Homo sapiens: one gene and its partners. The protein of the gene in region 1 purifies or fractionates together with the protein of each later gene. This does not show direct contact. Each region holds a gene or a part of one and is shown in the gene's direction. Other genes may lie near its edges. The genes, in order: ATAD1, ANKS6, SLC2A12, XXYLT1, GOSR1, PRMT8 and COQ8B.

Region 1 (3,500 bases):
GCAGAGTATTTTCTCCTTACAAGTGGAATGAATTTAGCTTATTAGACCCTTGCAGATTTTTGAGTACCTGACTTACAGATTTTTAATAGTAGATAGTTGACTATTAAATTCCTTTTTCCAGTTTCATAGCAGTTTATTTCATTACTGCTTGGAAAAGTCTTTACTTATGTTAATATATGATTTTAACTTATTTATGTATAATCATCAGATTAACATTTGTAATTTTGGGAGCGTTCTTTTTACTTTAGTGAGTGTACATTTGTAGTAAAATTCATGTTGACCTTAACTTTTGCCAGGTTACTTGGAGTGATATAGCAGGTTTAGATGATGTCATTACGGATCTGAAAGACACAGTCATCTTACCTATCAAAAAGAAACATTTGTTTGAGAATTCCAGGCTTCTGCAGCCTCCAAAAGGTATGGTAAAGGTATATATTCGCCTAAAGCATTAAAATCCTAGAAAACATTGAAACTTTCTGCCATTGTAGAACTAGTTTTTGTGAAATCAGATTCTCAAGAGGATGCTGAGATCTATGTGAACAGTTTCTTAAAATAATTGCTCATTCTTCAGCTTCTGAAATTGAGATAAACTTTTTCCTGTATTTACATGTTAAAATACTTGTTAAAATAATCTCCTTCAATTTCTTTTCTCTTACTTCCAAGTAAATTAAAATTTGGAAAATCAAGATTAAAGAAAGATTCAAAGTCATAATACAAGTTTTTTGTTTTGTTTTGTTTTGTTTTCAAGCCAAGACATTTTTTTCTTGTTTCACAGCTCCAACGATCTTATTTTTAGAATGTAATGATTCTTTTTCAGGAAATATTTATCTGCAGATGAACTAGAAATTAAATATTTAACTTTGATGGAGATGTTTGCTTATTCAAAATCACTTTGAAAGTCTTGGAACTCAAGAATTGAATATGCTCATAACTGCATCATTAAGTGTAATTCTTGTTCATTCAAATCTTTCTTTTTTTTTCTTTTCTCTCTTTTCTTTTCTTTTTGAGATGGGGTCTCACTGTGTCACCCAAGTTGAAATGCAGTGGCATGATCTTGGCTCACTGCAACTTCCGCCTCCCAGGCTCAAGTGATCCTCCCACCTGAGCCTCCTGAGTAGCTGGGACCACAGGCATGTGCCACCACGCCTGGCTCTTTTTTTATATTTTTGGTAATGATGGTGTTTCACCATGTTGCTCAGGCTGGTCTTGAACTCCTGAGTTCAAGTTCTTCACCTGCGTTGGCCTCCTAGAGTGCTGGGATTACAGGCATGAGCCATTGTGCCCAGCTAGTGCACATATTTCTGTCATGCTTAAGGCTTGTTAAAGGTGATTCAGATGGAGTGTAAATAATTTACAGTGAGAGATATATGTGTGTGTTACTATGGCGTTCAGATCCAAATTTCACGAGATAGCTTATTTTCATCTAGCAGAAACTCTTATCTAATGCATTGCCAAAACTATATGGGTTTGATATGTTGTTAGTCAAGACTTAAATTATTAGTCACATTGATTTTTCAAAAAAGTGGATCTTTAAAAATATCAAAATAGCATTATGTATGTTTAAATTATAATGCTTATAATCTTTCTAAATTTGCAGCTATATCAATAAAGTGCATTAATTTACATATCAAAGGTAACTGAAGCCTGTACCTGTGCATTTTTATGAACTACATAATTTTTGTTTCTGGTAAGTGGAGGATGACAGTTAACAGCAAAAATGACATGTTCTTTTATTATTAAAACAACAAAGCTATTAGGTATTTCTTTTTGTTTTCTGAAATAACAACACTGCTTATAGTTTTTCCTAACAAAACACTCAGTTTATTGTGATTTCCCCCCTGCCGCAAAAAAAACTTTGAATGATTATTTGAGCCCAGATCAAAAATGTATGGCTATAGTTGGATTAGTTAAGTCTTTACTACCCTCTTCCAGGTTATTTGTAGTCTGAACAAAAAATGACTTTTCTGCATTTTTAGTTCTCAATTGGACAATGCTAGTGAATTTAGGAAAGTAAAATACCTTTTATATGCTGTTGGAGAAAGCTTCTTTTTTTATCAGTGTTATCTTAGACCAGGTAATTGGGTGATTTCTCCAGTTGGACTTGGTTTAAAGACCCATTTAGCAGAGTGGATACCAAATTATGCAGGGAATACTTCAAAAGTTATATGTAAATTTGCTTCTTATTTGAAAGCATTGTCCAATTTAAAAGTTACATGAATATTTTCTGATTATATAAAGTTTTGCTATTTGAACTTTTTCACCTTTATGTCTGGACAATTTTTAATCAAGAATAACAGTTTTGAAGATCATTAATTTACTTTTTGACCCTCAATATAAATTGGATATTGGTGTATAGAAGCAGAGTGTAAAATCAGATGCATCCTTGTTTGTTCCATTTTGGGACTGGAACTAGGTTACCTAGGTTAGAGTTATTGACAATTTTATGTTATCCTTAGACAGTTTATTGCTATCTGAGCTGAAAGTGATCACTGCTTCACACAGACTACAAAAAGATAATTGGAGAGTGACTGCAGTATCCATGCAGTGCATGAGGTCATATGTAACTATTGTGTATAGATACAAAGTTGAAGCTAATGCACACCATGATGCCGCTAATTGGTGACAGGGAAATGGGGGCACACATAAGATATTGACGGTTATATTTAAAAAGTGATTTTTTTCCCTCAAACGTCTAAAAATTTACAACAGTTAAAATTCCAACAAAATCCATCTGAATACCATATGGCTTCCTCTGTAAACTTTCTGAATTCTGTATTGTTATTTTGGTATATAAATTTTATTACATTTGTGAATGTTATACTTCATGTTTTGGTGCATTCTTTAAATTGTGAGTAACCTAAGGAAAAAAATAATTTTAAAAATAGATTTTCTGTTATAAAGACCCATATTCTTCTCAAGTACTTTATATTTAAGTAGATTTAATTTATATAGATGTGTATTTTTGCACCATTTGGACAAATTTTATGTTAAAGCCAATAAACAGTTGTCCAAAAAAGAAAAATAGTCACTAATAAGGTGGAATATTTGTCACAAATGAGGATTATCTCAAATTTAGATTTGTGTATCCCAATACTTTTTTTGTTCTTATCCTTTTTTTTGGAGACAGAGTCTTACTGTCACCAGGCTGGAGTGTGTAACCATAGCCCACTGCTGCAGCCTCCTGGGCTCAAATGATCCTCCTGCCTCTGGGTCCTGAGTAGCTGGAACTGCAAGGCATGTACCACCATGCCTGCCTAATGTTTTAATTTTTTGTAGAGACAGGGTCTCACTTTGTGGCCCAGGTTGGTCTTGAATTCCTGGGCTCGTTATCCTCCTGCCTCAGCATCCCAAAGTGTTGAGATTACAGGTGTGAACCACTGTGCCCATCCTCTTCCTAAATCTTTTATTTGCATATAGCACTTACTAAGTAAAGCCATTACCAAAAACATCCGTCTTAAAAAGGAGTTTAAATTTTTAAGCCTCTATAAAGCTTAAGATAA
Region 2 (3,500 bases), on another chromosome or scaffold:
TTATGTGGCTTAAGCTGAGGATTGCTCTACTGGAAGGACACGCAGAACTCAGAGTCCAGCCCTGCAGACCACTGAGACTGAGGAAGTGGTGTGCTTAAGTATCGGGGGGATTGCCTGTGACATGCAGGTTCTGGGCCCACTCTCTGCAGAGTGATTTGGTAGCCCTGGGCAAGAGCCTGGAAGCCTCTATAACAAGGCTGCTCTCCCCAAGCACATCATTCTGATGCAGGTGGTTCTGGGGCCCTTCTACAACAAGGTTTGGCAAACTTTTTCTGTAAAAGGCCAAATAGACTGTATGGACCATACAGTCTCTGTTAAAACTACAGTAGTCACTTCTGCTAGAGTGAAAGCAGCCTTACATATGTAATGAGTAAATGAATGGGTGTGGCTATGCATATAATATGTAAATGAGTCAGGTATGGCTAGGTTCCAATAAATTATAACTACAAAAACAAGCAGTGGGATATATTTGAGCCATGGGCTATAGTTTGCCAGCCCTTGTTCTACAATAGTGTGCCTGACCTCCTCTGCCCTGATCATTTCTCAAACACTAGTTCATGTAAAATTGATGAAAATTAGTTTTTTAAAAAACATCTAGCAGTGCATCTTTTTTTTTTTTTTTTTTTTAACTTCTTGCCATCTCTCTGGCATGTAAAGAGTTGTCTAAACAATCCTTAGCAAATCTGCCATAGGACATACCACGTTTCAAAACCTTTAATGCACGGTTTGCAATAAGATCGCAACACACAGCCTTGGTACCCTCTGTCTATGTAAAAGGCCTGACTTCGACGGCAGGACTCACAGCCAGGGAGTAACAGTAGGTGGGCTGCAGTGTATATAAACATCTAGCTCTGAGAGGTCAAGCACTGAAGAAAGTAGCTTCAGGCACATTGGCTAAAAAGACCTGAAAGTGTTAAGTTTGTTACCATTGAAAGAATATAGAATAGCCCCATCAATCAAGAGATGCTGAAAATTTGGTAAATGCTTATTAGAAATACACTCTCCAAAAAAAAAAAAAAAGAAATACACCATCCAATCAGAACAAGTCTGAAATAAACATGTTTTAAAAGCCTGTAATGACAGAGAGGTGGCAAAAATGAAGAGGATGCTCAAATGAAAAGGAAAAAGAAGTTTAGGAAGAACTACCTGAAGCCAAGAGACCTCTTACTTTGTCCAGGTGGGAAACTGAGGCCCAGAGAGGGAAGAAAGCTGGTCAAAGGTCACACACCCATTGGAAGCTGAGTGAGTGACACTCAGGAGGTGAGGATTCCATGGGAAGAGCACCTAGAGGTGATTCTCCCACCTGCAGCTCCTGCATGGGCTCTAGAAGCTGGTTTAACACATGACTCTTCTGAGCCTTTGCCTCATCTGTGAAATGGACACAATGACAACTACTACGGGGTGGTGGTGAGCAGAAGGCAGGTTATCCTCTGGCGTGTGAGATACTCAGCCCAGTAGAGTGTTAGGGACTCATAAAGGCTTGCTATTAGAAATTAGGGCCCCAGTCTCCTAGGACAGGGTTTTGTTTTGTTTTTGTTTTTGACACAAGGCCATTGCTCTCCTTTAAAGGTTTGGGTTGTTTGTGGCAGGGATGGGGAAAGGATCTGCCCTTCCCAGGCCCTGCCGTGCCCAGCACACCTGCCATGCTGAATCTCCCCTCACCCTCGCAGGGACCCTCTGAGGAGGGTATTCCCCCATTTTGCAGGGGAGGGAATTCAGGCTCAGAAGTGAACACTCCAGAACTTGCACCTGCCCGTGCCTGCCGAGCTGTGCCTCTTCTGTTGTGCATGCGTTCTCCATCCCAGGTTTCCTTAGCCTCTGCATCTTGAATCTTCACGGAGTGCCCTCGGGCTTAGCTTCTGACAGGCCTCATTTTAGGGGTTGTCCTGGCATCATGGGATGGCGATGCCCTCATTTCCCCAAGATGCAGTGGCTCAGACACATTGGTGGATGTGGCCAAGGTCACTGTCCACTTGGTTCGATGCTGGCTGTGCCCCTGCTGGCCAAGGGACCTTGAACCAGCTGCCTCAGTTCACCAAGCTCCCATTTCCTTCTCCACAAATGGGTGCTGGAGTGATACCCGCCTCAGGGCTGCTGTGGGGTTCATGTGAGATCCTGCCTGGCCCAGAGGGAGCACATGGGAAGTGGATTACTCCATAGTGTTGTCGGCGTTATTTGACAGGAGCGAACCTCGGGTCTTCCAGCAGGATCTGGTCATGTTCCCATTGAGCAGAACTAGTCTGAGGCTCAGTTCTCCCACTCTGTACCTGGGTGGTCTTGGTCATCTTAATTGGCCCTGCAGGACTACAGTGTCTTTTTTCATAAGATAGTCATAATAAAGGCTCTTTTCTTGGGAGATTTTTGTGAGGAATAGTAAGATCAGGCCTGTAAAATTTTCATCGCAGTGCCCTGGCACATAGACGACATCCAATAAATGGAAACTATTATGTTTTGATTGATGATACATTCATTCCGATACTTTACAAAGACGTACTGAGGCCTGCTATGTATCAGGCACCTTTCTAGGCACTTTGGATACATCAGTGAACAAATGAGATCCAAATCCCTGACCTTGAGGACCTTGGCCTTGATAAGGGGAGACAGGCAGTCAGTAGGAAATAAGCATATTAAATATATAGTAGGATAGGTGGTAAGTGCCACAGGGTTAAAAAAAAAAAAAAAAGGGCAGTGTAAAGAGGTTGGGTGTGGCAAAGCTGGGACAATTCATCCTGCTGTGTCAAATGGAGTGGTTGGGCAACCTTGAGAAGGTGGGACTGCAGCAGACATGCAGGACCTGAGGGAGTGTGTTGGCCCTGGGGGATCCCTGGGAAGAGCCCCAGGTAGGGTGCAGGCTGTGCTATTGATAATGACAGATTATGAAATAAATAATAGGAGCCCCAGCTCTTACTGTGCAGTTCCCGGAAATCCAGCCCCCACCAAGGCCTTGGAGGTCCCCTGGTCTCTGCCTTTCATTAGCAGCAGGACAGGGTACTTTTGATGCTGTAACTGTCATTGCGACACCTCTGACTCCCCACTGAGGTTGTGGTGTGGAGTTGGAGCTGATTTCTTTTCCTTGGGTTGGGGCAGGGTCCCTGGGACTGCTTGGATATAGACGAAAAAAACTGAAGCCCAAAGCGAGGAAGGGACCTGCCCAGAGTCACTGGGTGTCAGGACACAGCTGCCCCTGCCTCTTGGGGCCAGGCTCTGCTGTCAGTGATTAACTTGTGTCAGATGGTTGCTTAGCAGCCAACACTAAGACCAGGTGACACTCTTTTCTGTGAAAAGGTCTTGGCATGAGAAGACCCCACCCCACAGCAAAGTTGGTTCTTGAATACTTGAAAGAACATGACATATTTTTTTTAAAAGTCAGGTGCAGAATAGTTTCTTGATAGTATTTCACAGGCAAAATTGATATACTGTGTCCCATGGCAGTGTCCGTACTTTCCATGAAGAATTCTGGGATTCTGGCCAGGTGTGGTGGCTCACGCCTGTAATCCCAG
Region 3 (3,272 bases), on another chromosome or scaffold:
TATCCAAATCTCTAAGCAATTAGGTTGAAGTTATTAAGTCAAGCCTAGAAAAGCTGCCTCCTTGTAAGGCTTTCATGACAATGTATAGTAATCCACAGTGTCCAATTCTTCACACTCCTCAGGAATATCACTACCTCAGGTTACGGTACACAGGCTATAATTGATGATGATGTTCAGATAACTGAAGACACAATAAATGACATTCAGACATCAGGACAATTCCCTCATGTTCTTTTCTATGATGGCCACCTGTACCAGCAACGTGGGTTTCACCCACACAACGATGAACTGTTCTCTTACTTCTCCAGTTGATTTTAAAGACTTGTTAAGAGGTCTTACTAATAAAATTTGGGTATGATAGAAAATCCACAATCAAATCTTGAACCAAATAACATATTAAATTACTAATATTTAAGTGATGGAAGACACACAAAAAACTTAAAAGCACGAACAACCTAACTTGAAAAAGAATTTTAAAATATGATTAACCTGAAGAAAAGAGAATCCTAAGAGCCAAAGCTCCTTTTTATTTAGCTTGGAATTTTCCTATTGGTTCCTAACAAACTGTCCCAATGTCATATAAGGAAACATGATCTATTACATTCCTTTATAACAATGTGGAGAGACTATAAACCTATGTAAGTAGTAAAACTATATCAGAGACTCAGGAGACTGACTAAAAGGCCTGGATCTGCAGTGTATTATCTGTATAAAAATTGGCAGGGGGAAGCTAAAAGGAAAGGAGATTGGAGATCTCAATTCTATCATGGTGTATTTCATACGCAAATCAGAGCATGCATTGTTTTTTGTTTTTGGAAAGAGAAGGGAAGTGTGTTCTGCCCCATGTTTCCTTCCGTGTTTATAGTTCAAACTCTATATATACTTCAGGTATTTTTTGTTTAGCCCTTCATTATAAATGGGCAGGAAATTGTTTATCAACCTAGCCAGTTTATTACTAGTGACCTTGACTTCAGTATCTTGAGCATTCTTTTATATTTTTCTTTTATTATCCTGAGTCTGTAACTAAACAATTTTGTCTTCAAATTTTTATCCAATATCCATTGCACCACACCAAATCAAGCTTCTTGATTTTCAAAAATAAAAAGGGGGAAATACTTACAACTTGTACATATATATTCACAGTTTTTATTTATAAAAAAAATTTACAGTACTTATGGAGAGCCAGCAGAAGACATCAGAGCACTCACTTCTTCCCATCTTTGTTAAGGTTAGCGAATTACCCATGGACACTGTTAGGTGAGGCTCATTCGGCAGCCCTGAAAACAAACCTGGTCACACTGTCTTTACCCTCTCCCTTCAGATAAAGCACTTCGATTATCTATTGATCTGCCCAGTTTTCAAGTCATGCGAATACTAAAAAGGTTACATCATCTGGATCTGTACCTTGGCTATATAAGCATGTTTTCCCCCTATTCTATGTTTCTTTTTTTGGTGAACATTGAAAAACAGGAGGTGACTTATTACTGTTAATTAAAACTAAATGAAAAATGTCAAGTCTTTAAAACAGTGAGCTTGTAACTCTTTCATGTAATTTTATTCTCTATGAATTTGGCTATCCTACTGAATCTTAAAATAAAGGAAATAAACACTTTTTTTTTAAAAAAAAGGAAAAATACAAGTCTAAAAATCTCAATGAAATATTTCACAAGAAGGAAAAATGTAAGTTAGCCTTTGCTTTCCACTTTGGAATAAGCAGGAGGTTAGGGAAGGCATTGAGAAGAAAAAAGATAAAAATAATATGTGTTGTTCAGTGCAGTGCCTAAGCTAGGTTTTCAAGATTTTATAATACAGTAAGGAAAATGTACTATATATGGAGATTAGGATGTTGCAATTTTTCCACAAAGGTTTAAAAACATTTTGGAAATACAAGTTTTTGTGGAACATTGTGTTGGAATATTGTCCCCATTAAGTTTCTCCTGAGAAGCTAATTGGACTCTCCACTCAGCTTTATTTCTAGGTATAATCACTGTTGGTTACACTAAACTCCTAAACCTAAATGACAGGGCACAACTACAGCTTGATCCTGTATTACCACATCAGGGCTCCTGGGTGAGCCAGAGACACTGTTTCATAAATGCATATTTATTATAACTTTAAGAGTAGCAATCTCATATACTGAATAGTCACTCTTTAACTCCATTAAATAAGATACAGCAAGGGGAAGGACAGTATCACACAAAATGGCTTTCAAATTCAAGTGGGGCTATTTGATAATTACACTGTGGCACAGAGGCAGCTTATGGGCACTTCTTGTTAAAACATCTCCATGTTACCAACTTCTGACAAGACTCTTAGTATAGGCTTGGGCATCAACCCAAGATTAAAGTCAAGAACCTCAATCACTTCTCTACAACTACAGGTGTTGAGTCTTTCCAGAAAAACAAAGGTCCAAATGAGGCACCATTCATCACAGCTTCTTTCTCATTTCCATCTAGTGGGTAAGAGGTTTCTCTTCTTAAAACTACAATTTCTTAACCTTTACAAGTTATTTAACATTTTCTATCATATTAAATTAGCAACATAAAACATTATCCTTTATCTATAAACTTCTAGTCTGGTTCCCTAGAGTTTATATACACGTTTTTATTTCTAATCTGCAAGAAAAAAAATTCCTATTTGTTATTTGGTAACAGAGCATTAAAAGATACTATACACATGTGGTGCATATATATATATATATATACACACACACACACACACACACACAAAATACACTTCAAAAAGAAGCCAACACACTTTAGCCAAAGTCTTAAGCTTGCATAGATTTTAAAAAAAAGAAGTATGAATACAATTTTTGTTAAAATAGAAAATGGGGAATAAAAGTTATAGAATGAAGAGAGATCTTTTCCAAACTTTTATTTGTGCACATTCAATTGAAAAAGATAACTTTTACAGGTTCTTTGGTGCCCATATTCAGCATACAAAAATGTAAAAGACTATTCACAAATAAAACACATTAGCTCAAAATGGAAAAAAATAACAATGACGACAATAAAACAATCTAAGGTAGTGCACACTGTGACAGCTCTGCTTATGGGGACATGAGAATTACTGCGAAAATAAATAGAATGTCCTTTTGTAAAAGCAGCAATATCATGTCTTGTAAACTTCCTTTTATATTACAGCAAGGTTTGGAATAAAATCCAAAGGGACTGGAGCTTACACTGTAGCCGTGAATGAATAAAAGAGTCTATTTCCTCAATTATTGTTGGTCCAGTTTTCCTTTTGAGTCCAATGTGCAGCAGGTTTAA
Region 4 (4,023 bases), on another chromosome or scaffold:
GAGACTCATCCAATGTGGTAGGCACCGTGTTAGGTACTGGGTATATTGTGGTTAATAAAAAACAAATGTATATTCTGTTCTCTTGGAGTCACGTGTTCTTGCAATGAAGAAAGATGAGACTAGGGTAGTACATATATTTAGGTGGCCCTCACAGAATTATTGAGGATGGCACTTAGCCCAGACACTGGATAGGAGGTATTTAGAGATCATTTGTGTAGGTAGTGACATGTAAGCCAAGGTCTGAAGCAGAGAGGTTGGATAATCCATGCAACCTTACAATGTGGAAATAACAGGAAAAACCGTTTACCTAATCTCTGGTCAGAAATCAGAGAACTTGGCCAAAGAACTGAAGGGTTACTGTACTTACTCAAGTTCTTTGTCTATTTAGACAGCATGCACAGCACTTGCACGTGTTTACTTAAAAACTACTGGTATAGCCTCAATTCTTAGAAGACTGAAGTTAGTACGTTTTTATCTAGTTAGCAGTGTGCAACTGCCTAGGGTCAAAATTGCTACTGGCTAGCTGTGTGACTTTGGGCACGTGACCTCGGCGTGCAAAACTCCCTGGTACCCTCAAGGAGGCTCTTGATAAAGTGTTAAAAGTCTGTTTATAAAACAAAAGTGGATGAATGTCGCCCTCCAGGGCTTTGCGGTGCTGGGGCTCGGGGAGCAGCCTCGCAGGTTCGTGCGGGCGGCGGGGGCCCCCTGCTGGCCACATCCTCCAGCCTCCCTCCGCTCGGCCTCCGGCGCGACGTGCGGCCCGGGCCATTTCCTCCCAGGGCGGGGGAAAAGGGAGGAGCTGCCGGTTTAAATTGCCTAGCTGCAGCTCGTGTGCAGGGAGAGGCCGAGACGGCTTAAAGCCTCCAAGAAATTGAGGGAAAAAAGGTGCAGAGATTAAAGTTTTACCTCTTGGTGCCTCCAGCTTCGCTTTTGGCTAACCTAAGTTCCTCTGTTCGGGCGCCTCCATTCCCTTCAACACTCAGCTTGGATATCCTCTGGGGCTCGCCGCGTAGGGCGCCATTTCTCAGCCGGGACAGCGGGCCAGCCCTCAGCACGCTGGAGTCCGGAATCCCCCCCTCCCAACGCCGGGCGCCGGATCCCACCCTAACCCCTCCTCTAATACCCTTGGAACCTAGGACCCAGCGGTTTCGGCACGCCCGGCCCCGCCCCTCCGCGCACCGGCGCCCGCGATTGGCTCCAGGCGGCGCGGCCCCGCCCCTTTCATGGCCGCCGCCTGGCGCCGGGGCTAAGTGGCCGCCGGCGTCCGGGTACCCGAGGGCTCTCCCGCGTTGCTGGCACCGCTGGCGCCGCGGTCTCGTAGCGCATGGGCCTCCTCCGAGGCGGGCTCCCATGCGCTCGGGCCATGGCGCGCCTGGGCGCTGTGCGCTCCCACTACTGCGCCCTGCTGCTGGCCGCGGCGCTGGCCGTCTGCGCCTTCTACTACCTCGGCTCAGGCCGGGAGACCTTCTCCAGCGCCACCAAGAGGCTGAAGGAGGCCCGCGCCGGGGCTCCCGCCGCGCCCTCGCCGCCCGCGCTGGAGCTAGCGCGGGGCTCCGTGGCGCCAGCCCCCGGCGCGAAGGCCAAGAGCTTGGAGGGCGGCGGTGCCGGGCCGGTGGACTACCACCTGCTGATGATGTTCACCAAGGCGGAGCACAATGCCGCGCTGCAGGCCAAGGCCCGCGTCGCGCTGCGCTCACTGCTGCGCCTCGCCAAGTTCGAGGCGCACGAGGTGCTTAACCTTCACTTCGTGAGCGAGGAGGCCAGCCGCGAGGTGGCCAAGGGCCTGCTGCGGGAGCTCCTGCCGCCCGCCGCTGGCTTCAAGTGCAAGGTGAGCGGGCCGCGGCTGGGGGCTCCCGGTGGGTGGCCCACCCCATCCTAGGCGAGGTCAGTTTGCGCTCCCGGAGGGGATCCGGGGAACTAGCGGGTAGGATCTTCCCTGAGCTGCCCGCTTGCAATGTAGTGTTCACAACCTGCGGGAGGGCTCGTTCGGGGGCGTGTCCGGGAGCCAGACGCCCTCAGCTGGTGCTGAGGAGTGGAGCTGCGTTTTTAATGACCGCCTCGTTTTCCTCTCCCCCAGTTAAGCGCAGCCCCCAGGAGAGTCCGCGCGCCCCCATTTTGCTAACGTTGCAGGGTTCAGCACTGCCTTCAGAGTCTGCACCTCTGTTTATGTTCCTCAGTTTTTGACTTCTGAGGATGGGACTGGTCACCAGTAGTCATCCTGAGCAACTGGAGAGGGCCTTGGTGAGGCCTCTGGAAGTGTTGAAGTTGCAGTGACACTTCTCATTGCTCTTAAGGTATTTCAGTAGGATCTGGTCAAACTCATTGTGAACCATCTTATCTCCTCTCTGTGTCCCTTTTTCCCCTTCCTCCAAGGGTCATGAACCCATTTAGAGAAGCCTGGAGTTCCTCCGAATGAGGAAGAGAAAGCTCAAGAGGAACAGATATGATCTGGGGAGAGCACAGCTGGCCGCCTTGTCCCAGGCTGGACCAGTCTGCCTCCATGACAGCTTCCATCTCTGTTTATCATCTGTCTTCACTGCCTGGCTCTCCTTGTCTGAGATGTGTTTCTGACATAGTGTGAATTGCCTAGGTCAAATTGCTTATTTGATTTTGACCTAATAGTTGTACAGAGGGGATCCGAGGCCAGATTTTAAGGAGTAGTAGGTAATATTAAAGGGTGGAGACTGATGTTGGTTGGGGAAGCATGCTGAGACAGGAGTTGTATTATGTGAGTGACTAGGGGAGCTGTTGCCAGGATCCTACAGGCTTCGGGAGTCTCTGATAGCTCCTTGTTGCCTACGGGGTGAAGTCCCAGTTTATTGGTAGGGCTGTTGTGTTGTGAGCCTGGTCCACTTCTCTGGCTTCACCTCTCCTCCTTTGTCTACATGCACCTCATACCTTAGCTATGTAGGGAGTGGGCCTTATACATGCTGTACTGTCTGCCCACAGTGTCCTCTTGGGCCCTTGGCCATTCTTTACTCAGCTTTCACCTCTCCTGAGAAAGTCCCTAGACCCTGGGACCTCTGAAGGTCCTCGCTGGAGGAGGAGCCTGGCAACCTGTCCCAGGTGATCCTAATGACCCTAATATTTGAGAAACTTTGCACTAGTTCACGGTAGAAAACTGAGGGCCCTTGGCCATAGGGTCAGTCTGGGCAGATCTTGGGATTTGACCAGGTCTCCAAACACCGCCTTGAAGATAGCATTGTCATCTCTTCTGGGCCTACTCTGCACCGTTGCCGGATCTCTGTCCCCTTGTCCCCAGCTCCCGCTGCAGCGCTAGCTGCACAGCCAGTGCTTTCCAGCCTACTTGCCTTTGCTTTTGTCATTCCCACTGTTGGGGTGCTCCTTCTCTCCATCTCCAAGTCTTGCCCATCTTCAGATACCATCCCCTCCTTGGAGCCAAGGAAGCGTCCCTTCTTTCCTTTTCTACTTCCCTGGTGCTGTGACTGTATCATGTCTTATCATCCATCCCTATGTACAATGCCTGGCACTCTTAGTTGGCACCAGAAATATTGGCCCAGGGGTAGATCCAGCCTCAGGGCCGAGCCCCTCCTGTCTTGGAGTAAGTGTTTCATGCTCGGACTACCCCACTTTACTGGGCCCAGTTCTGGCAGCCTCACTCAAGGCCTGGAGGCAGCTGCAAATGACCAGAGGGAACTGATACCTCCTCTGTTGAGGGGTGAGGGTTTAGTGTCTGGGGACTTCTAGCCAGATGTCAGTGATTGGATAAGGGGTTATCAGTCCTGGCATAAAATTGCTCCCGTTACTTCTTTTTTTTTTTTGTGAGATGGAGTTTCGCTCTTGTTGCCTAGGCTGGAGTGCAGTGGCACGATCTCAGCTCACTGCAACCTCTGCCTCCTGGGTTCGAGCGATTCTGCCTCAGCCTCTCGAGTAGCTGGAATTACAGGTGCCCACCACCACGCTGGCTAAATTTTTTGTTTTTTTTTTTTTGAGACAGAGTTTTGCTCTTGTCGCCCAGGCTGGAGTGCAACAGTGTGATCTCGGCTCACTGCAACCTCTGCC
Region 5 (3,500 bases), on another chromosome or scaffold:
TGTTAGGCCTCACCATGCGTGATCAGGCGGACCTGGCTGTTTCACTGGGGACTTCAAATTGCCAGACCTCTATGTCTCTTCTCCTGAGCTAGGTCTTCTACTGGACTAGGGGCAGCCACCTAGCTGCATGCGTTAGGAAGGGCAATTTTGGGTTATGGCAACTCCTTGTACAAATTTCTACAAATCTCCATTTTTAACCCTACTCCACAGTTCTGCCCTCAGAGAGAGTGATCCCTTCCATTCTTGAGCATTTCTGAGATCTGTGGAAAACTTTTTAAAATCATTGCTTGACTCATAATTTTATTGAGGTGCATCACAGTGGTGGATTTGGAGCTGCTAATGTATTTTTTTGTTTGTTTTAGTTTTACCCAGTTACATTTCTTTATTCTGAAATGTCATTTCAAAAGACCAGACCATAATATCTCCACATGAACAGATATTTTTCTAGAATAGGCCTAAAAGTATTGGGAAGATGGGATTGTCAGCATTAAAACACATAGGAAATCAGGACCCTGGAAGAACTGTAATATTCTCTAGGACTTTTCATTTTCTAAATTTGCAGATATTGCCTGTGATTTCAGTTGAAAGTGATCCAAATCCTAGTGTGTCCATGTTAATTGTGTGTGTAGCTTCAAATGTTATTTAACGTTTCTTAATCAAGTGGAATTTTTCTAATGTTTTCATTTTTCTTTTATTAGACACTTGTATATTGTATATTATACAAGTACAGTGTTCTTATTGTAACAACTTAAATAATACTAAAACGGATAAAGAAAAAGTCAGCCGGGCGCGGTGGCTCACGCCTGTAATCCCAGCACTTTGGGAGGCTGAGGCGGGCGGATCACGAGGGCAGGAGTTCGAGACCATCCTGGCTAACACGGTGAAACCCCGTCTCTACTAAAAATACAAAAAATTAGCTGGGCGTGGTGGCAGGCGCCTGTAGTCCCAGCTACTCAGGAGGCTGAGGCAGGAGAATGGCATGAACCTGGGAGGCGGAGGTTGCAGTGAGCCAAGATCGCGCCACTGCACTCCAGCCTGGGTGACAGAGCAAGACTCCGTCTCAAACAAAAAAAAAGAAAAAGAAAAAGTCAGTCTCCTGGTAGTACCCCTCCATTCTTAACCCCTGAAGCAACTTGTGTTAACTGACAGTTGTGTATCCTTCTGATACCTTTTTCACTGTCATACAGACATCCCCAAAGATGTTTGTTTCTGTAATTATTAGAGGATTCATATTCTATACATTCTGTGGCTTGCTTTAATCACTCAATATGTTATAAACATCCCTTCAAGTTAATAGAAATACTAACTTTGTTTTGTTTTGTTTGAGACTGCGTCTTGTGTTGTCACCCAAGCTGGAGTGCAGTGGCGCGATCTCAGCTCACTGCAACCTCTGTCTCCTGGGCTTCAAGTGATTCTTCACCCTCAGCCTCCCAGTAGCTGGGATTACAGGCGCTCACCACCACGCCTGGCTAATTTTTGTATTTTTAGTAGAGAAGAGGTTTCACCATGTTGGCCAGGCTGGTCTTGAACTCCTTGGCCTCAAGTGATCCACCTGCCTTGGCTTCCCAAAGTGCTGGGATTACAGGCATGAGCCACCGCGCCTAGCCCTAACTCATTTTTTTAAATACCCAAATACTATGTAATCACTGCCTGTGATTTCAGTTGAAAGTGATCTAAATCCTAGCATGTCCATGTTAATTTTGTGTGTGTGTGTAGCTTCAGATGTTGTTAACATTTCTTAATCACTCAGGTGGGATTTTTCTAATGTTCTTTTCATTTTTCTTTATTAGATATTTATATATTATCGAAGTACATTTGTATATTATCAAAATGTTCTTATTGTAACAACTTAACTAATACTAAAATGGATAAAGGAAAAGTCAATCTCCTGGTAGTACCCCTCCATTCTTAACCTCTGAAGTAACTTGTGTTAAGTGACAATTGTGTATCTTACTGATATACAACTTTTTCACTGTCATACAAACATCCCCAAGGGTGTTTGTTTCTGAAAATATTACAGCATTGATATTCTGCACATTCCGTAGCTTGCTTTAATCACTCAATATGTTATAAACACCCCTTCGTGTTAATAGAAATAATACTAACTCATCCTTTTTAATAACCAAAGTATGGTTATATCATAATCTATTATACCATTCAAATGTTACTTCCAGTTTTGGGGGATTTTTTTTTTTTGGTCTTTTTGCTGTTGTTGTTCATTTTTTACTATTCCAAAAATGCTTCAACAAATATTCTTTTACAGATTGAATGTTGCTTATCCAAAATACTTGGGACCAGAAGTCTTGGGGATTTCTGATTTTCAGATTAGGGATGTTCAACCTGTATATACCTCCTTACACACTTTTGTTTCTCTTTTGCCATCTCAAATCTTGAAATTCAAGTTTTGATTCATGTGTCATTTGTTTAGAATATTCCTTCTAGCATTTCCCTTCAATAAGATACATGGTGGTTTACTCTGTGAGACCTTACCTGGCCAAAAATGTGTTCACTCAGCTCCCAGATAGATCCAGCTATGAGAGCCTCTTAAGCAATGGCATATCAGGCAGTGATGCATCCATCACTGGGCTCTTCCCTTAGGGGCTGGGCATCACACCAGCTACAAGACTATCGGCTCTCTGCTTGTCATCTTTCTGGCTGCATGTAGCAGTCCTTTCCCAGCTTCAGTGCCTGGGAGCAATTTCACTGCAACCCCTGTGTATGCAGATCCATAGTCTTCCACTGTCTGGGTTCCTCAGGAAGCAAGGAAGCCCTAGGTCTTTGCCTCAAGCTTGAAGAAAAATCTAAGCTTCCCTGCTGTCAGTTCCCTGGTTCTCTCTTCACTTCAGAGAGTATAGCCCTCTACCTGGCTTTCTTCCCTGGAGATCTCAAGGGAACTTGGGGCCTCAGATGGACCCTCCTTAGTGTGTCTGCTTTTATTCTTGTGCTACTCCATGGAGGAAATGGACCAAAGGTCAAGTCAGGAATTTATACTCTCACCATCATCTTCCCCAAATCTCAATCTCTTGATTTAAAAAAAAAAAAAAATAGATATTTTCAAAATTGCTCAACAGCATTTCATTTTCTGTTGCTATTTATAATGTCAACATGCAAAGCACTCCTCTGAGTGTTACATATCAAAGTGGATACTGACCCTGCCCTCTAGGGCTCTAATGTCCAGAGAGATAAGACTATGGGAAATGAATAATCCTGGAAGTGATAGCAAAATGATACTAACTTAGGGCCAAGCTTGGTGGCTCACACCTATAACTCCAGCACTTTGGGAGGCGGAGGTAGGAGGATGGCTTGAGCCCAGGAGTTTGAGACCAGCCTGGGCAACATAGGGAGACCCCATCTCTAGAAATAATTTAAAAATTAGAAAAAAAAAATTAGCCAGGCATGATGGCACATGCCTGTAGTCCCAGCTACTCAGGAGGCTGAGGTGGGAGGATTGCTTGAGCCCAGGGAGTCAAGGCTGCAATAGCCACAGTCACACCACTGGG
Region 6 (3,500 bases), on another chromosome or scaffold:
CTAGGTACCCAAGTTCCAAACATGAGGACCACCTGGTCCCTCCTCTGGAGGGGCTCACAGTCTCATGGACAACTATGATGGATAATCCTGTAGCCACCTTTTCCTGCTTTTTGTTGTTTATCTCATTCCATCCTCACAACAATCCTGTGAGATAAGCAAAGATTAGTATTCATTTCTTATACCCATTTTATAGTTGAGGACACCGAGGCTGAGGTCAAGCAATTGCTGAAAGTCTTCTGGTGGGTTAAGTCAGCCCTGAAACACAGACTGCCCCCACTTCTGATTCATTGCTGTTTGCCCTGCCCTTGCTATTTCTAACAAGATGCCATGTGTGAATGGGAGTAGATGAGGAGTGGGCAGAGAGGAATACTTTGGAAGGGAGAGATGCAGTGATGGAGGTGGGCAAGGATGGGAGAAAGTGTTCGTTCAAAAGCTAAAGCTACGGAGAGATACTCTAACCATTGGGCAGGAAGGGAGCAAGTGAAGAATAAAACTACTTACATTTTGACCAAAGCCTCCCTCCACAAAGCGAAGTACCCAGCTAGGGTACGAGAGCATCAACATCACGTGCTTGCTGGACACTGTTGGCAATGGGTGGCCCTGGGGGCACTCTTCAACCGCTCTGACCTCAGTTCCCTTCTCTGTTAACTTGAGCTGATTCTCCTCATGGAATAGGGCAGGTATGGGTATAAGGAAATGCCAGGACAGCCCCTGGCACATGGCAAACACGCAATAGTGTTAGTTCCATGTACGCTTTCTCCTGATCACTCAGCTATGCTTCTCTTCCTCGGCTAAGGGAATCACCATTCTGCCAGCCTCTTCTCCCTCTCCCCTGTTCCCTAGGTGTCATGAGAAACCTCCTCTGTGGCCTTCTGGAACATTTGCAAAGCCTCCAGTCCCACTCTCCTCTTCAGCCCATTGTCAGTGCCCAAGACACATCATCTCACCTCTGCCCTCACTAAGGCACTTTCCTCTGAACTGTTTGTCCTCTTCTCTAATCAAGCCTCATAATCCTACTGTACTGGATCAGCTTTCTGAAGCACAAATCTGCTCATGATCAGGCATCTCTTTAAAAACTTAGGATGCTGTCCTATTGCCTACAGGACGCTAGATAAAGCCCAGTTTCCTTAGCATGGTGTGCAAAGCCCATCAATACCTGCATCATGCAATTCTTGGAAAAGACCTCCGACTGCATATGTGAATGCTTCTGTGCATACTCTTCCCTCTGCCTGTGCCGGTCTTTCCTCCTTCTTCTCTCTGGAAAACAATCTTTTTCAACCTGCAAGACCCAGCTCAAACGTTACCTCCTCTGGGCAGGCTTCCCAGATCTGCCATTTATCCTCTCTCCCCAGGGAGGGGCATTACCCTTTCTTATGTGTTCCTAACGCCTGTCTCTCACTTTTCCTATTGCAAGATAATTGGCTTTTTGTGTGTCTATTTATATGTCTATTAGATAATGCACTTTTTTTTGAATTTGTGGGCCTGACACACAATAAGTAATAAATGTTAATAAATGTTGACTGAATTGATGTATGTGATTGTGAACAAACTCTTGAGCCTAATGGGCTTTAGTCACTCATGGCTTCCTGGAAATTGGGATTCCTATCTCCCACCCCACCTGTCTGCTGTACTTAGTTGCTGTGAACCTTTGAAACTCAAAATGGGTAAATATTCTGGGAATCAAGGTGCTGAAGCCAGTCAAATCATGGGTACATTTTGGTTATTCATGTACTTATTCAATATTCAGTAATTATCGACTCTTACTATGGAGTGCTCATCTGAATAGCAGATAAATGGATTAATCACAATGCCCAATTATGAACCATGGGGGATAATGGACCCTCCTGAGCTACTGCTTGCTTTACTGATACTTGGTGAAAGTCTGATGCATGATGCATTATTTATGGCGATGACTCCCTGATTAGGGTTTTATCACCTCAAAGGAGAGCCCCCAGGAGTTGGGAAACAGTTTTAGCAAAGAGTCACTTTGGAAACTGATATATATATATATATTTTTTTTTTTTTTTTTTTTTTTTTTGAATGTTCTGTTGACTTGCTGGCCCAGGGAGAGGGAATAATTACAGGTTGGAAAAAATCCTACAATGTGACAATGAGATTAGGGGTTGCAGTGAGTTATGGGGATAACTGAGCTGACTTCTTGCATGGTGTATCTTGGTGGTTTTGGCTAATAGATCTTTCTCCTCAGGAAGTTACTTTCAGCTGAAGAATGTGGTCCCATTATTACAGGGGTTAGGGAATTGAGGAAGAGGAGGAACCAGGCATAGTTCTCTGAGGATGGTCTTCATCTATGTCTGTTTCTGCAGAGTGTGTACACTAACTAGTAGGCTATGGAGACAGACTTCCTGGTTTTCAATCCAGTTCTGGACCTAGTAGATGTGTTGCTACATTGAGCAAGTTGCTTAATGTCTCTGGGCCTTTTAAGATTGTTGTGAAGATGAAAAGGGTTAATTTATGCAAAGGAATTAGAACATTGCCTTATACATGGTGAGTTCTCAATAAGCGTTTATGATTATTATCCTGCTAGCTTTTAGGAGTCTTGCCAAAAAAGTGCAAACTGAAAGTATTCTCCCACTTTCTCATTTCTGTAGCTGAAATGATCCATAAAACCATAGTCCATGTGACTTTTTCCTCCCTCCGCAAACACTGATTTCAGTCCTTAAGTGAGCTCAGGAGAATTAAGAAGATACCCAATTTTTTTTTTTTTTTTTTTGCCTGGCTAATTTGGCTTTTCAGAGTCCTAAATTGGCTTTTGGCTGTCAAAGACAGTGAAACACAACACTCCTGTCTCCAATTCAGGAGTGGGTTTCATTTCCTCCTCTTTGCTAACTGCAATGTGAAGTGATTATCACATACCAGTGTGGAACATGCAAAAATCTGTAAAAACAGTCCTTACACCTTGGAGTCTACTCTGCCAGCAGGGGGAAAATGGGCAGCCTGAAAATATGTGAACAGCCAAGGTAACTGAAAGCAGCCTCTGTGTGTGAGAAGCAAGCAGGTGGTGCTGTTGTGAACTGGCTTAGTAACAAGATAGAGTGAGCACAGGCAAGAAGGGACCTCTGAAAGGTCATTCTGTCCATGCCTCTGTCCCTGAGAACCACCTAACCGAAGATGCATTGTTGGCCACTTGGTCTCTTGTTAAAAAGCTTCAGAGAAGGGAATTTCCCCAAACTCCTCGAGTGTCTCAGTAGTCGGAAGTTCTCCCTGAAGTCTGAGCTCAACCTCTTCGATTGCAATCTGAGTCACCTTCGTTTATGTTATTCTAAAAAGAGATGAAAACTGGCTGCTACCTTTTCATTTGGGGTTGTCTCACCATTTTTACTAGTTTTTGTTCCAATTGATTCCAATCCCTTTTTCTGATATTCTGGTATTAGACTTCTAATAGGAATAGCTAGGAGAGGAGTGTTTGAGATTTGCCTCTCCAGTATTATCCAGCCAAAATAGCCACTGGATATTTCACACATCAAATGTCTTTTCTTACT
Region 7 (3,500 bases), on another chromosome or scaffold:
CCCAGGGAGCATGAGCAGGTGTGGGAAAAGCCTTATGGATTTTAACAGAGCCTTAGAGAGACGGGAGCCCAGGGCCAAGATACAGCAGCAGACTCTCAGAGGGTGTGCATGCAGGGAGCGGGATTGTAGGTGCGGCAGAGCAGAAAAGGACAGTCCTGGGGATGGCACGTGAGGAGGCGCCTAGAGAAAGGAGGGTGGGTTGTGTTTGTGTAAGAGACGGAGAGGGAGAGGGAAAGCCAGGCCCAGAAGTGAGATTCAGATGCAGTGAGCAACGTGAGAGTCAGTATGAAAAGGAGACAGAATAGAGGCAGGCGTGACTCTGAAAGAGCTGCCAGGGACTGGGGTGCAGGCATGTGCAAGAGACAGAGCCCAGAAAAGGCTTCGGAAGACCCCGGGGAACCCTGTGGTGCTATGAAGGACGAGGGAAATGTGTAGACAGATGATACGATGCAGGTCAGAGGCCTGGAGCAGGAGCTGCAAGGGGCAGCGGGGGAGACAGGAGAGGGACAGATGCAGGTCAGAGGCAGGAGCAGGAGCTGCGTGGGAGACAGGAGAGGGACAGATGTGGGTCACAGGCCTAGAGTAGGAGCTGTGAGGGACAGCGCGGGAGACAGGAGAGAGAGGGTTGGCAGGAGAAGGCATCCACCAGTGGGCGCTCGGGGCCCTTCCCTGGCTGACACACCTCCCCCACAGGCCTGTTTGCCGAGCAGAGCCTGCAGGCCTTGCAGCAGGAGCTGGCTTGGGAGTGTGACTACCGTCGTGAGGCGGCTTGTGCCCAGAATTTCAGGTGAGCTGAGTGCCCTGAGCTTCCCTCCTTCCCTCCCTCCCAGGCTGGGTGGGAAGTAGCTGCCCCCTCAGCTTCTGGCAGCTGGAGCTGTGGGGTAGGGCAAACTCTCTCTTTCTTTCAATCATTGTTCATCCATCCTTCCACTCATCCATCACTTCGCTTACCCCCTTTGTCCTCTGTGAGCTTGGGCAGGTCACTTCCCAAGCGGCAGTCTTCTCCTGTGTCAGATGGGCCGCATATCCACTGTGGTCCGACACAGGCACTTAATTAATTACACAATGACACACTCTTACCTCTGCTGGACTGACGGAGAGCAAGGAGCCCACAGCACTGGGAGGTAGAGAGAGTGGGCTCCACAGCATCCCTTCTGCACTGCAGGTTGTGGGAGAAGGTGGTAGAAGCATTTTGAGAACAGGTTGGCATCATCACATAAGCCCTTATATTCAAGAACTCTGCAAGCCAACGATTGCCCTCCCTGCTGAACACTCTAGGGACCCTTTTGCCAGTATCCATCATCAGACTGTTCTAGAACGCTTGTCTGCAACAGCCCCAAACTGGAAACAACCCATATCCATCAAGTTTATCCAGCAGGGTGGACAAATAAGCAACGGTATATTCATCTGTGGAATATTACGTAGCAGTGAAAATGCATGAACTATGGCTACGTGGAACAATGTGGTTATATCTTGGAAGCATCCTGATGTGTAGCAATTAATGGCACCTCAGTGGGGTCCTCCACAGTGTGGCTCACACATTTATTGACAGCCTAAAACGTGCCAAGCTCTGTAGACAGAGAGTGAAAGCTCAGTAGAAGGCAGTGGTTAGAGGCACACACCCTAGACTCAGATGCGGGATGAAATCCTGGGTCAGCCCTTAACAGGTTACGTGGCCTGCATCCATACAATCTGTACAGTGGCCTCCAGAGAGCATCCCCTCACTGTGGAGTGAGGATGAAAGGGGAGTGTGCCGATTAAATGCCCCACATGGCTCCGGTTCATGAGGAGCAGTTCAAACATCAGAGATTTTTATCAACAAGGACAAAAATACAAACCCCAAAGGAGGAGCTCAAGGAAGAGAGTGTGAAGTGGGGTGATGGGCCAGAGACCCCCCCGTCCCCCACAGGATTCCCGGGTGCCCTTAGGATAAAACCCCACACCACCCTCCTGTTCTCCCTCACTCTCCTCCAGCCATCCCACGGATCCTCAACCAGAGACCTTGCTCATATTCTCTGCCTCCCAAATCTTACATAGACATACTTCTTTTATTTTTTTGAGACAGGGTCTCGCTCTGTTTTCCAGGCTGGAATACAGTGGTGAGATCACAGCTCACTCCAGCCTCGACCTCCCAGGCTCAAGTGATTTTCCCACCTCAGCCTCCTGAGTAGCTGGGAACATAGGCGCAGGCCACCACGCCCAGCTAATTTTTGTAGTTTTTCATAAAGACGAGGTTTCACCATGTTGCCCAGGCTGGTCTTGAACTCCTGGGCTCAAGCGATTCTCCCACCTCGGTGTCTCAAACTGCTGGGATTACAGGTGTAAGCCACTGCACCCAGCCAACACACTTACCTCAATCTATAATCCGTCTGTTTGTGAGAGTGTGGTCTCGGGGTTGGGGGCCAGGTCCAGGGACTGGTTCATTCACTGCTCTGTCCCCAGCATCATTTAGCACAAGGATGGACACAGAAGATTCTTTCCCGCTATTTACCTGTGTTCAGAGTAGTGATTGCAAGGACTGACCCATGGGTATCACTATAGACTTCACAGATTTTGATACCAGTGACTACTTTTGGGATGAATGAATTAATAAATTAATGAAAAAGTAATGCAAAGGCTGAAATACACCTGAACTCATCCTTCTGGGGCAACCAGAAGTCATAGAAGGGTTTCGGGTAGGGAAGTGGTGACTGGGTTTCCAGCAGCACCCAGTTGAGAGGCAGGTGCAGAGTAGGCACCTTGGAGATACTTGTTAAATCTCAGTCCAGCCAGGTGTTGGTCATCACCCAGGGCAGACAGCAGCAAGAGATGGGCAGGAGGGAGGGCATGGCGCAGACTGTTCATGGAGGACTTCTGAGAGCACAAGGAGGAGGTCTCAAGCTGGGTCACAAGCCTGAAGCACGAAGTCCCCTTCCTCCCTTTCCTTCTGCCCCAGGCAGCTGCTGGCAAATGACCCCTTCTTCCGGGTCCCAGCCGTGGTTAAGGAGCTGTGCACGACACGGGTGCTGGGCATGGAGCTGGCTGGAGGGGTCCCCCTGGACCAGTGCCAGGGCCTAAGCCAGGACCTGCGGAACCAGGTATGCTGTCTGGTGGCACAGTGGGAAGGGCATGGCCCCAGGGCGGGTGGGCCAGGCTCATGGTCTCTCTCCAGGCCAGCAGTGGCACCACAAGGGAGATCACACTGAGATGCCTGTTAATTCTCCCCACCCCAGATTTGCTTCCAGCTCCTGACGCTGTGTCTGCGGGAGCTGTTTGAGTTCCGATTCATGCAGACTGACCCCAACTGGGCCAACTTCCTGTATGATGCCTCCAGCCACCAGGTTGGTTCCTAGTGATGTGTGTCTGGGTACATTTGCTGTTGTAACAAATATTCCTTGATATTTCGGTAGCTCAACAAAATAGCAGTTGATTACCCCCACAATAGGCAGGGGTGGCCCTTTTCCAAGTGGGATTCAGGGACCCAGCTCCTTCCCTTTTGTGGTTTTGCCATCCCTGGGGCC

The links.
Region 2: the proteins of ATAD1 (region 1) and ANKS6 purify together in Homo sapiens (affinity purification with mass spectrometry, with the first as the bait; one large-scale study listed by BioGRID). This does not show direct contact.
Region 3: the proteins of ATAD1 (region 1) and SLC2A12 purify together in Homo sapiens (co-immunoprecipitation; one large-scale study listed by IntAct). This does not show direct contact.
Region 4: the proteins of ATAD1 (region 1) and XXYLT1 purify together in Homo sapiens (co-immunoprecipitation; one large-scale study listed by IntAct). This does not show direct contact.
Region 5: the proteins of ATAD1 (region 1) and GOSR1 purify together in Homo sapiens (affinity purification with western blotting; one study listed by BioGRID and IntAct). This does not show direct contact.
Region 6: the proteins of ATAD1 (region 1) and PRMT8 purify together in Homo sapiens (affinity purification with mass spectrometry; one large-scale study listed by BioGRID and IntAct). This does not show direct contact.
Region 7: the proteins of ATAD1 (region 1) and COQ8B purify together in Homo sapiens (co-immunoprecipitation; one large-scale study listed by IntAct). This does not show direct contact.

What each region holds. Positions count from the first base shown.
Region 1 is NC_000010.11:87,787,227-87,790,726, reverse strand, and holds part of ATAD1 (outer mitochondrial transmembrane helix translocase), read left to right. Parts: intron 1-296; coding exon 297-417; intron 418-1,597; exon of another isoform or gene 1,598-1,662; coding exon of another isoform or gene 1,663-1,687; intron 1,688-3,500. UniProt on the Homo sapiens protein: Outer mitochondrial translocase required to remove mislocalized tail-anchored transmembrane proteins on mitochondria.
Region 2 is NC_000009.12:98,786,556-98,790,055, reverse strand, and holds part of ANKS6 (ankyrin repeat and SAM domain-containing protein 6), read left to right. Parts: intron 1-3,500.
Region 3 is NC_000006.12:133,987,081-133,990,352, reverse strand, and holds the end of SLC2A12 (solute carrier family 2, facilitated glucose transporter member 12), read left to right. Parts: 3' UTR 1-2,772; downstream 2,773-3,272. UniProt on the Homo sapiens protein: Insulin-independent facilitative glucose transporter.
Region 4 is NC_000003.12:195,268,360-195,272,382, reverse strand, and holds the start of XXYLT1 (xyloside xylosyltransferase 1), read left to right. Parts: upstream 1-1,223; 5' UTR 1,224-1,324; coding exon 1,325-1,828; intron 1,829-4,023. UniProt on the Homo sapiens protein: Alpha-1,3-xylosyltransferase, which elongates the O-linked xylose-glucose disaccharide attached to EGF-like repeats in the extracellular domain of target proteins by catalyzing the addition of the second xylose.
Region 5 is NC_000017.11:30,515,408-30,518,907, forward strand, and holds part of GOSR1 (Golgi SNAP receptor complex member 1), read left to right. Parts: intron 1-3,500. UniProt on the Homo sapiens protein: Involved in transport from the ER to the Golgi apparatus as well as in intra-Golgi transport. It belongs to a super-family of proteins called t-SNAREs or soluble NSF (N-ethylmaleimide-sensitive factor) attachment protein receptor.
Region 6 is NC_000012.12:3,494,203-3,497,702, forward strand, and holds part of PRMT8 (protein arginine N-methyltransferase 8), read left to right. Parts: intron 1-3,500. UniProt on the Homo sapiens protein: S-adenosyl-L-methionine-dependent and membrane-associated arginine methyltransferase that can both catalyze the formation of omega-N monomethylarginine (MMA) and asymmetrical dimethylarginine (aDMA) in proteins such as NIFK, myelin basic protein, histone H4, H2A and H2A/H2B dimer.
Region 7 is NC_000019.10:40,699,887-40,703,386, reverse strand, and holds part of COQ8B (atypical kinase COQ8B, mitochondrial), read left to right. Parts: intron 1-693; coding exon 694-787; intron 788-2,935; coding exon 2,936-3,077; intron 3,078-3,212; coding exon 3,213-3,320; intron 3,321-3,500.